3 linked regions of the Homo sapiens genome follow. The protein of the gene in region 1 purifies or fractionates together with the protein of each later gene. This does not show direct contact. Each region holds a gene or a part of one and is shown on either strand. Other genes may lie near its edges. The genes, in order: CCNO, SATB1 and PRRC2B.

Region 1 (3,749 bases):
TTGGTCAGGCTGGTCTCAAACTCCTGACCTCATGTGATCCACCTGCCCTGGCCTTCCAAAGTGCTGGGATTACAGTCGTGAGCCACCACGCCCGGCCCAAATGACATTATTTAGGGCAGAATAGAGAGCTTGCTCAGAGTTATGGGGAAATAGGAGGAACAGTGGTCAGAACCCAAAATCCATTCCTTTTCTTTCACCTGCATCTCTAGGAGACACCATCCCACCATCTACTAAATTTTCATAGACAGAAACTTGTACTTTGAGCAGACACATTTATCAGCTTTCTTCTGGAATGAGGTTAGGTGGCTGAACCTGCTCTTGGTTTGGCACCCAGTAGCCTCGCCTCTGGAAAACACCAGGGTTGAGGGTACCTGAGCTTTCTGCCGTTGCTAAGTGCCTGTGAGGTTGATTATGGGCTACTTGTGCTCCTGCAGCCCCTTCTCCTATAGGGTCAGAGACCCTCAGGAAGATTCACTCAGGCCACAGAAGGGCTCCAGCTTCTACCAGGACGGGAGTCTGTGGACTAAACCCGAGGCGCCTTGAGGAAACTGCCACGCCCGGTCGGCCTGGGCGTCCCCATTCCAGCTTTAATTTCCCTGAGTTTATCACCCTGAAGGAGCGGACGCAGGAAGCAGGGAAAAACCAAGGACTGGGCTGCCGGCGGGGCAGAAGGCCAGAAGCTAATGACCTAAAACGGAACAGGCTGTGAGCAATTCGATCAAACTCGAAATGCAACTTTCCAACAATGTTCTTAAACCGCTGTAGCCCCAGCTTGCTTGGCTTGGGGTGAAAAGTGTGGGAGAAAGTCTTCACGGCCTGCAGACTTGCTTGCCGACTGAGGTTGATCCGGCAGTTTTCCGTTTTGTTTTGAGCGCGAAAGCGTGGCTGGCTGGTGGAGCTCCAATCTATTCCGCAGCACAAACGGCCCTTCTGAGGCTCTGCTCCCCGAGGCTGGCGGAAGGAAGGGCACTGGCTACTCCGGTACCCACCGAAACAAAACCGACAAACGCAACCGAATTAACACTATTGCTTGTTTGGGTCACTGAAGAAAACTTTTCCCGTGTCGACAGAATTCTAGCCCGACTTTCGTTTGGAACTCAGGATCAGACCTTTACAAAATTACCGACCTGGGTTAGAGGTGCCCGCACGTGTCGAGACCATCTGGCCAAGGACAGAGAGATGCCCCCTGGGAGAATGTTTTAACCGGCGCAGCGGAGCCGCTTGGCTGCGCCCGCCGCAGCCCTACTCCCACTCCGTGCACCGGGCTCCGCAGTGACCCGGGCTCCGCAGTGACCCGGGCTCCCGCAGCGACCCGGGCTCCGGTTGCCCAGGTAACGCAGGACGCAGGCGCGAAAGGCGGGTGCCTGGCGCGCGCTGCAGCTCCCCCTCCCCCCGGCGGGCCGCGGAGGCGACGCGCTGCCTGCGCCCTGAGGCGAGTGGTTCTCCAGCCGGAAAATCGCGGCTCCGGTGCCGCTCTGGGCTCAGCCAGTGAGAGGCCGGGGGTGTGGTAGAGAGAAGGAGCCGGCCGGGTACTTAGGACCGCGCCAGCCTCTGAGCCCGGCCTCCTTCGCACTTTCGAGTGCGCGTTTGCTGCCCGCCGCAGCCCGGGCGTTGAAGGTAGTAAAGCGGCCACCCGGCCGCATCATGGTGACCCCCTGTCCCACCAGCCCCTCGAGCCCCGCCGCCCGAGCGGGGAGGCGGGACAACGACCAGAACCTTCGCGCCCCGGTGAAGAAGAGCAGGCGTCCGCGCCTCCGGAGGAAGCAGCCGCTGCATCCCCTGAACCCGTGCCCGCTCCCGGGAGACTCCGGCATTTGCGACCTGTTCGAGTCCCCCAGCTCCGGCTCAGACGGCGCAGAGAGCCCCTCTGCGGCGCGGGGTGGTAGCCCCCTGCCCGGCCCGGCCCAGCCCGTGGCGCAGCTAGATCTACAGACCTTCCGCGACTACGGCCAGAGCTGCTACGCCTTCCGCAAGGCGCAGGAGAGCCACTTCCACCCGCGGGAGGCGCTGGCACGGCAGCCACAAGTGAGGTGCTGGTAGAGCCAGCTCCACGCCGCCGCTCTTCCTCTCCTCCCAGGCTCTCTCCTCTCCTGCCGGCTCGGCCCTCCGAGCGCCCGGGCCCGCGACAGCCCAGGTCCCGCCCCGAGTCGAAGCACAAGGGGCCGTGGAGGGGCGTCACCGGCCTCATTTTACAGATGGAGAAAAGTGGGGCGTAGACGGCTTGAGGGACTTGCCCCGTCCCAAGCTGGCTACTGGGGCACGGTAGAGAGGAATTCGTTTCCGGGTTGAGTCTGGACTCCTACCGAACTCGGGCAAGTTATTTAACACCCCTGAGCTTCTTTCTTCATCTGCAAAATGGAACCCCTCCCCTTCCTTTGAATTGCTGAGCCCATTACGCGAGGTAACGTGTACGACGCTCTCTGCACAGCGCCAGGTCCCAATCCCGGTGTTCCGGCTCAGCACGGCCCACGCGTTTCCCAGTTTCCATTGCGTTTCTCTTTCTGAAATCTTCTTGCCCCTCTCCTGGGAAGCTCCCCGATTCTTCTTGGCCCTTCCTTCCCTTCCACAGTCCCTCTCCACCCTAAGCCCAGCGGGCCCGCCTCCCCCCTCCTTCCCGGCAGGTGACGGCGGAATCCCGCTGTAAGCTGCTCAGCTGGCTGATCCCGGTGCACCGCCAATTCGGCCTCTCCTTCGAGTCGCTGTGCCTGACGGTGAACACTCTGGACCGCTTCCTCACCACCACGCCGGTGGCTGCAGACTGCTTCCAGCTGCTTGGGGTCACCTCCTTGCTCATCGCTTGCAAACAGGTACCTGGGGTATCAAACAGGTACACGCGGCATCTGGGGACGCAGCCAAACTCCCCCGCCACTCCCTGGCCGCCCGTCTTTCCAGCGCGCACGATTCAGTGCTGGGTTCCCAGAACTCATTTTATCAGACATTTGCATACGCATATATCCCTTAGCCTTAACTTCACAATTTCTCCACAAACGAAAAATCCTGTCACTCGGCTTCCAAAGAAATAGCCTAATAGACTAATAGCTGTAATCAGTCCCAAATAGCTCTTTTGGCACCTCTAGTCTAGCCTCCGAAAAAGCCTTCAAAATTTCCCAAGCTTTTTTTTTTTAGTTGGACAGTAGTTAGATCAACTGCGCTGGAAGTACGCTCTAGGTCACTTACGTGGAAGCAGTGGAGAGGCAGAGCCCCGGCTGTCTCTCTGGAAGGGATGGGGAAAGTCCGGGCGTCATACTGGGGTGGGCCTGGGGCCCGGGAAGCCGCAAAGCGGGGTTGAGTGCGCCCTGTGTTGCAGGTGGAGGTGCACCCGCCGCGCGTGAAGCAGCTTCTGGCCCTCTGCTGCGGCGCCTTCTCCCGGCAGCAGCTCTGCAACCTCGAGTGCATCGTGCTGCACAAGCTGCACTTCACCCTGGGTGCGCCCACCATTAGCTTCTTCCTGGAGCATTTCACGCACGCTCGCGTGGAGGCGGGGCAGGCTGAGGCCTCCGAAGCTCTGGAAGCGCAAGCCCTGGCGCGGGGGGTGGCAGAGCTGAGTCTGGCCGACTATGCCTTCACCAGCTACTCCCCTTCCCTCCTGGCGATCTGCTGCCTGGCGCTGGCGGACCGCATGCTGCGGGTCTCGCGGCCCGTGGACTTGCGACTGGGAGACCACCCGGAGGCGGCGCTGGAGGACTGTATGGGCAAGTTGCAGCTGCTGGTGGCCATAAACAGTACTTCCTTGACTCACATGCTGCCCG
Region 2 (3,649 bases), on another chromosome or scaffold:
ACAAGCATTATACCTTCTGTGATTATGATTTCCTCTCCTATAATTATTTCTGTAGCACTCCACACTGATCTTTGGAAACTTGCCCCTTATTTAAAAAAAAAAAAGAAAAAAAAGAGTTTGTTACTCTATTGTATGTTACAAAAGAACTATAGACTGTGGAATGCAGTTTAAAGATGACATATGCCAACAAATGCCTTGTATTATATGGCACTGCCGTAATTCAAATTTGTTTTTATTTTGGAAATAAAAGTTCACTGTACTTTTTTTTCATTCTCATTGTTACATGATTTTTTAAAAAAAGGAAAAGAAAATGTGAAACACAATTTAGTCCTCATTATTTATTTGTAGATCCTGCAGCATCATGTTGTAATTAATTTTTTGGAAGTTTCCGTTAAATGTAATATTGCTTCTCTTGTTACCATACTGATTCTTTTCTATTTATAAATGTATTTTGATGGGCAGTAAAACAAAGTGTCTTAAAAGTTTTAAATAGAGAAAATGTGCTTTACACAGTTGCCTATAAAAAGTGCTCTATGTTATCCAAGCAATTCATACTATAAGCTTCACTCTTATTGTTGTATGCAATTTTTACTATCATGCAAATAAGCTTAGGTAAATAAAACTAATAGATCACCTTAGAAAATTATGCAATTAATGTGAAAATAATTGATGTTTGCAATGTGTCTTCCTTTGGTTTACAATCAATTTTAAAGCTACATCTGTATAAAATTTCTGTATAAAGGTGTATTTCTTTTTTATGAGTTTATGGCTATGAAAACAGCTATTTTGTTACAGCTGGCTGTTTTTATAAGTGTATCACAATTTTCTTTATGCAGAAATGTTCTGACTAGGAGTGGTTATTGACTGTAACTACACAATTAAAATTGTTTGTATCGTATGACATGGTAGGGTTTGTCTGCTTATGTGAAGTAACTAAAGGAGTCAAAGGATGGCCCTCTCATTTAGGTGCATGTTAATAACTTGTTATTTCACTGATTTTAAAAAGAGCAATTGACAAGTTACTTGAAACACTGTAAATTTAAATCACAAACACATGCTCATTTTTAAATAGGTATGAAATTTCACAATGAAAATAACCTGTTTGGTTAACATTTTGCTTAATAAGTAGAGATAGGATGGTCAAAAGACTCTCCGACAAAAACAAATCCAGTCTCTAGCAGTTATGTTGTTAGAATGGATTCATCTGTGCTTATTTCACAATACTTCATTTATAGCAATGCTTTTCCTTAAGCTAATGTATAAATATTTCTAAAGGCCATTAATAGTAACAAAATAAGTAGGGGAAAAAATGGACCTTCTGTATAAAAACCCCTTAGCTTTTTTTTTTCACAAGTTATAAGTGGAATAAGTTAATAACTGAGCTCGTAAGTGTATCTCATAACTATAAGAGCTACATGAAGAAAATAGGAATAACACACCTGGTATTTAAACACAATCTTCAAAATTCTTGCAACATTAAACATAGTAAAATGCCAGAATATAAAATGAGGTGTGCTAATGGTCACAGGATTGAGGCCAGCATTACAGTTTGGGGTGATTTTTCTTTTATTTGCTCCCTCACTTTGTTTCCTAGATGCTAGTAGGGGTATCTGGGTTGCTTGAGATACCATTTTGCAATTGCCCCTTCTCTTTCTGCCTACCATCTTCTCAGGCCCTGATGAGCTTATTGGTAGGCAACTGGGCTGCTTTAGTGTTGAACTTGTACTTTAGAAACTGAAGTGGAATCATTGAAAACTTTCAATAAAGCTTTAAAGTTCCATTTACTTTTGAAGCACAGCTAAGCTCCTCTGAAGGCAGCTGGTTTGTTGCAAACTTAAAATTGTACTGAAAAGTTGCCACTTTTTATTTAGTAAGAAAACAAACATTCTGGCTCACTAGAGTTCAGAAAAGTAATAATTTGAGCCAAAGGAATTTGAATTAAGAAAATAGAAACTAGGTTTCATGTATTTAAAAAATAGGAAATAAAATAGAAACTCAAATGCCATGAAGTTATCTTCCTCTTCCTTATATCCCCTAAGTTTGGGTTGCAAATAACTTTCCAATTCCTAATAACCTAAATTATTTTGAAATAGTGTTTTCAGTGAAATGATGAATGTTTGAATGTTTGTTTGGTAATCAACATAACAATGCTAACAAAATTCCCACTTAGATTTTTTAACTTTTAAAAGTCAGCGTGGTTTTGATAATTTGATATTTTAAATGCCCACACATACACACACACACACACACACACACACACAAGCACATGTTAATAAACTGATAGGATGGAGTGAGCAAAATTGTTTTCAGGGAAGATGGCACATTTTAGAAAAGACTTGCCCAGATGATCTTCCATATTGCTCCCCCAATGTCATTTATCGCTCATGCCAATCCTCCTCTTGTTACCTGTGGCTATGGTAAAATTCCTTTAACAAGCTTCATTGTGTCCAAGTATTTCAGAGACTTTTAAAAGCTGGGCATGACATAGCGTTTTGTGCTGTTAAGACCTTAGCAGAGTCAGGTAGTTTACGGGTAATATTCAACCTTGTGCATCTGAATCTGTCATGGATTCCCTTCACTCAGCACTTTGCCACTAATTTGTATTACACTCTGTGGCCATATAATACTTGCACATTATGCAAAAAAAAATGTTGATAGTATCTCCTTGCCACACAATATGCAGAGTTGACAACCTTTGAAAACCAAGGTAACTAATATGTATGTCCTAGTTGTGTGGCGCTTGGTAACAAAGTCTGTACATATTATGTATAAAATGTGTATTGGTTAGCATTTAGTACTAAGAAATTCTGAGTTTAAAATAAGTGATTTTTTTCAAAGTAGCGATATCTATATCTGTGTTTATCTAAAAATACTGGCTTGAATAGAAAACATTCTCAGATGATTCAAGATTGAGTAAAAATGAGAATCCCATACATTCCATTATTAAATTCTGCCCTATTCCCAATTGTTAGCATCTGGCTGATATTAAGGTCTTTGATTGTCACAATATTCTCAATAAATGAGACATTCTGAACTGCCTGGTGATATTTTCAAAAAGAGCAATTAAAATGTGTATTCCCTCTAATACAGCTGATAGAACTGTTGTGTTAAAGCAAGTTGGAAATTTGCATGATAGTGTGGAAACCAATGGAGGTCCAAAATATTAATCATATCTAAAATATCAGAAAATATCAATACTAGTCTTCTTTATGCATATTTTTGACTTTTTAAGAGGGCTTATGAATTCAATGTTTCTTCTGAGGCAATCCTTTTAATGTAAATACTAAATACTTGCATGTCTTTTGACAAAGGCTAAACTACAATCTATTAATATGCACATTTTTGATAAAATATAAAGTACCCTAATTAAAGAAATTGTGGTAGAAGGTGTATGTCCTGAATACTATACCTGTTTAACAATACCAAATGTTAAATAAAAATAGTTTGAAATTAATGTTTAAAAGATGAGCCACATTTTTAAGACTTTCTTACATTACCCTACTTACAGAGAGCATATATCTCCAAATTTAATTCTATCAAAAGAACACTACCAAAACTCAATTACAGCTTCTTGCCTCGTACCAAGGTTGTGTGGTTACCGTTTCCCAACAATTATTTTCAGCTGCTAATACACTTACTGTGATCAAAA
Region 3 (3,649 bases), on another chromosome or scaffold:
GTATGTTTGCACACGGACATGGATGCACTGTGGCCAGCCTGCCGCTCCTCCCCACCCGAGGAGTCAGCTAGAGGAAGTGGGCCTAGATCAGGGTGCCGGGCTTGTGTGCAGGCTGTGTGCACGTGCGGTGTTTTCCCTCCTTCCCCAGCTCTGGTTAACAAGATCCTCTTTCCCTTACAGATCCCCAGACGAGGCCTTGCCTGGAGGTCTTAGTGGCTGCAGCAGTGGGAGTGGCCACTCCCCCTATGCCCTGGAGCGGGCAGCCCATGCCAGTGCTGACCTTCCCGAAGCCTCCAGTAAAAAGGCAGAGAAGGAGGCCAAGTTGGCTGCTCCGAGGGCAGGTGAACAGGGAGAGGCCATGAAACAGTTTGACCTGAACTATGGAAGTAAGTCATCCTCATATCTTCAGGGGAAAGAACTCAGGCAGAACCAGGGGCCATGCAGTCCTCGGGCCTCCCGAGTTTGCCCTTGCACTGAGTACCTTAGCTTTCGGAACAGCTCGGCCAGGCCCTGGGCTGGGTTCTGGGGCTGTAGAGGTGAGCAGAGTAGGTAGGATTCCCACCGAGTGTTGCTCACAGCCCGTTGAATCCCCGTGACACCCTGCAGCTTCCGGGCTTTAAAGAGAGGAAGCCTGGGGCCCAGAGACGTTCGGTGGTGTGTCCGAGGTCACACACAGCTGTAGGAGCAGAGCTGGGGTTTAAGCTCTTTGCGTGTTCTCTCAGTTGTGCCCTTGGGCCTCTTTGGTTTGGGGTAACAATGTGTTAGATCAGAGGCGGCCTGAGAAAAGTGCGGAAGTCCTGTCCAGGTTTCTGTCGAGCCTGATGCTAGATCTCAGGCGCCTGTTGAATTGGGTTGTTCTTGTCTCCTGGTGAGTGGAAAGACTGTTCCTTCTCGTGAAATCTTGGTTCAGGTGCCATCATTGAAAATTGCGGGTCCAGCCCCGGGGAGGAGAGTGAGGTGGGTTCTATGGTGGGCGAAGGCTTCATCGAAGTCCTGACCAAGAAGCAGCGCCGCCTGCTGGAGGAAGAGAGAAGAAAGAAGGAGCAGGCCGTGCAGGTGAGGGGCGGAGGGTGGGGGGGCATGGGGCTGGAGGGCAGGCTGGCAGATGCCCAGGAAACCCAGAGCCAGAGGGTAAGGGAGTTCTCGGTCAAGCTCAAGGTGGCAGAGAGGAAGAAAGGAGTATTTAGCAAGCACACATTGTCTCCCCGTTCCTGCTATTACCAAGGCCCTTCTATCAATGTAGGAATAGGTGGTGGCATCACTGTTATGCAGTGGAAGAAACCGAGTCTTGAAGAGGGTGACTTCTCTAGGGTGATAACAGTGGAAACTTGTCCAAGGCAAGATGCAGACCTCCGTCACCTCCCAGCTTCTCCTTCCTCCCCACTCCTCATTCCTGAGTGGAATGAGATTTGTCTCCCTCAAGTCAAGTGGATCGTGAACGCTATACTAAAATGGAGTCAGGGCTGGACCTGCACACAGATTACAGTCCGTTGGCCTTTCAGGTCTTTCTTGGGGGGTGCTTTGCTTGGCATCGCAGTTCTGCTTGAGGTTTTGGGAGACGAGCGTTCCACACATCTCTGGAGCATTTTCAGGTGGTGTGATTTTTGGTACCTGGGATACTTATCCTGGGGAGAATTTGTCAGTCTTGGTGCCTTTGGCTAGACTACAGCATCCTTTCTTCCCCTCAGGTGCCTGTCAAAGGTCGAGGCCTTTCCTCCCGTATTCCTCCTCGATTTGCAAAAAAGCAGAACAACTTATGTCTGGAGCAAGGTGACGTGACCGTGCCTGGCAGCAGCCTGGGCACTGAGATCTGGGAGAGCAGCAGCCAGGGTGAGAGTTGGGGGTGTGACCCCAGCTGTGGCACCCAAGGTCACATCACACACTGGGTTTGCTTCTGGGGAGGATCCTGCTTTTGAGCTACGAATATAGATGGAATACAGATGGAGTACCTGTTTGCTGTGTTCCGCTGCTGAGCTAGTCGCTGAATGCCGTCTGAGTGATTTGCTGCTGCAACCCCCAAACGGATACACAATTTTCCTTGCCTAAAATTGGTAGAAGAGCAGAGCATTCATTAGTCTGGTGATCTGGAAAAGGATGGCCCCTTGGGCTTAGATCACACAGTAGTGGGAATGGCCTTCTTTGTTGGTCGTCGTTTTCTCCCACTAACTTATGGAAGAGAAGCAAATGACAGATAGACCAGCCGCAAGAGTTCAGGAGCTCTCTTCTGTGCTGTGCACCCTTTTCTTAACATGGGGAAGGCTCTGGAAACCCCTCCCTGAATGCTCTTCTGGAAAGGCAAACTGAGACCAGAAGACGGTATACGTTACTTCTTAGAACATTTGTTGCCCTGAAAACTTTTTTTTTTTAATTCTATATCAAATGTAATTTTTCTGGGAATTTTTCCTTATAAAATAGAAAACTATTTTCATAGAATAGGTTCTTCTTGAGGTTTAGGTGAGGCAGGGCCCTGCGCTGTTAGCCCAGAGCATGCATAGATGAATAAAAACATGGACATTCGATATTTCACAGCTCAGGCCCATGAGGGGAGCTTGGAGAGGTCACCTAGTGCCAGCTCATTTTTCTGCAAAGCAGCTGAAGCTTCTAGAGGGAAGGGACTTGACTCAGGGACTCCAGGGTCATAGGACAAGCACCCGAGACACTGAGTTCTGGGCCTTGATTCTTTCACTGTTTCCACATAGCTTGTCCTCATGTGCTCGGTGAAAACTTTGGTTCTTGCAAACTACAAAATAACATTCAACATGCCCAGCTTTGATGGAAAGGAAGCACAACCATTTGATAAAACATCAATAACACTACATTTGGTAGTGGCTGAGTGACAGGTGTCATAGTATTGGTGTCCAAAAATGCCCAGGTGCCAGATTGGTTGAGCTGCCAGGTGTGAATCAGATGTGACTCTCAGGTGTGAGTCATCATCCCCTTTTGTCAGATCTTTTACTCCAGAATTCTGCAGGGGCTCATTGGTTTCTCAGACCAGGGGTTGTGTCCAAGGGATGGCTTCAGAGAGCCCTTGGATATTAAAATAGCATGTGAAAGGATTTTTTTTTTTTTTAAAGATGGGGTCTCACTATGTTGCCCAGGCTGGACTTGAACCCCTGGGTTCAAGCAATCCTTCTGCCTCAGCCTCCTGAGTAGCTGGGATTGCAGATATGTGCCCCCACCCCCTGCTAGCATGTCAACTTTTGCATGCATATCTATTTTTCTGGGCTCCGGATCCATGGCCATTCAAAAAGTGGTCTGTGAGCTTAAAAATTTTTAGTAATACCCGCTGGGATCTTTCAAAGACTCTGTAGAAGCCACCAACTTTGGCCAGGAGTGGTGGCTCACACCTATAATCCCAGCAGTTTGGGAGGCCAAGGCTTGAAGATCACTTGAGATCAGGAGTTCAAGACCAGCAACAGAGTGAGACCCTGTCTCTATTGTTTAAAAAAAAAAGAAGGCCAGGCCTGGTGGCTCACGTCTGTAATCCCACCACTTTGGGAGGCTGAGGCAGGCAGATCACCAGGTCAGGAGATCGAGACCATCCTGGCTAACATGGTGAAACCCCGTCGCTCCTAAAAATACAACAACAACAAAAAATTAGCCGGGCGTGGTGGCGGGCACCTATAGTCCCAGCTATTCGGGAGGCTGA

Evidence for each region.
Region 2: the proteins of CCNO (region 1) and SATB1 purify together in Homo sapiens (affinity purification with mass spectrometry; one large-scale study listed by BioGRID and IntAct). This does not show direct contact.
Region 3: the proteins of CCNO (region 1) and PRRC2B purify together in Homo sapiens (affinity purification with mass spectrometry; one large-scale study listed by BioGRID and IntAct). This does not show direct contact.

Annotation. Positions count from the first base shown.
Region 1 is NC_000005.10:55,231,419-55,235,167, reverse strand, and holds the start of CCNO (cyclin-O), read left to right. Parts: upstream 1-1,559; 5' UTR 1,560-1,644; coding exon 1,645-2,025; exon of another isoform or gene 2,026-2,621; coding exon 2,622-2,807; intron 2,808-3,307; coding exon 3,308-3,749. UniProt on the Homo sapiens protein: Specifically required for generation of multiciliated cells, possibly by promoting a cell cycle state compatible with centriole amplification and maturation.
Region 2 is NC_000003.12:18,345,191-18,348,839, reverse strand, and holds the end of SATB1 (DNA-binding protein SATB1), read left to right. Parts: 3' UTR 1-3,463; downstream 3,464-3,649. UniProt on the Homo sapiens protein: Crucial silencing factor contributing to the initiation of X inactivation mediated by Xist RNA that occurs during embryogenesis and in lymphoma.
Region 3 is NC_000009.12:131,477,564-131,481,212, forward strand, and holds part of PRRC2B (protein PRRC2B), read left to right. Parts: intron 1-180; coding exon 181-386; intron 387-910; coding exon 911-1,056; intron 1,057-1,688; coding exon 1,689-1,830; intron 1,831-3,649.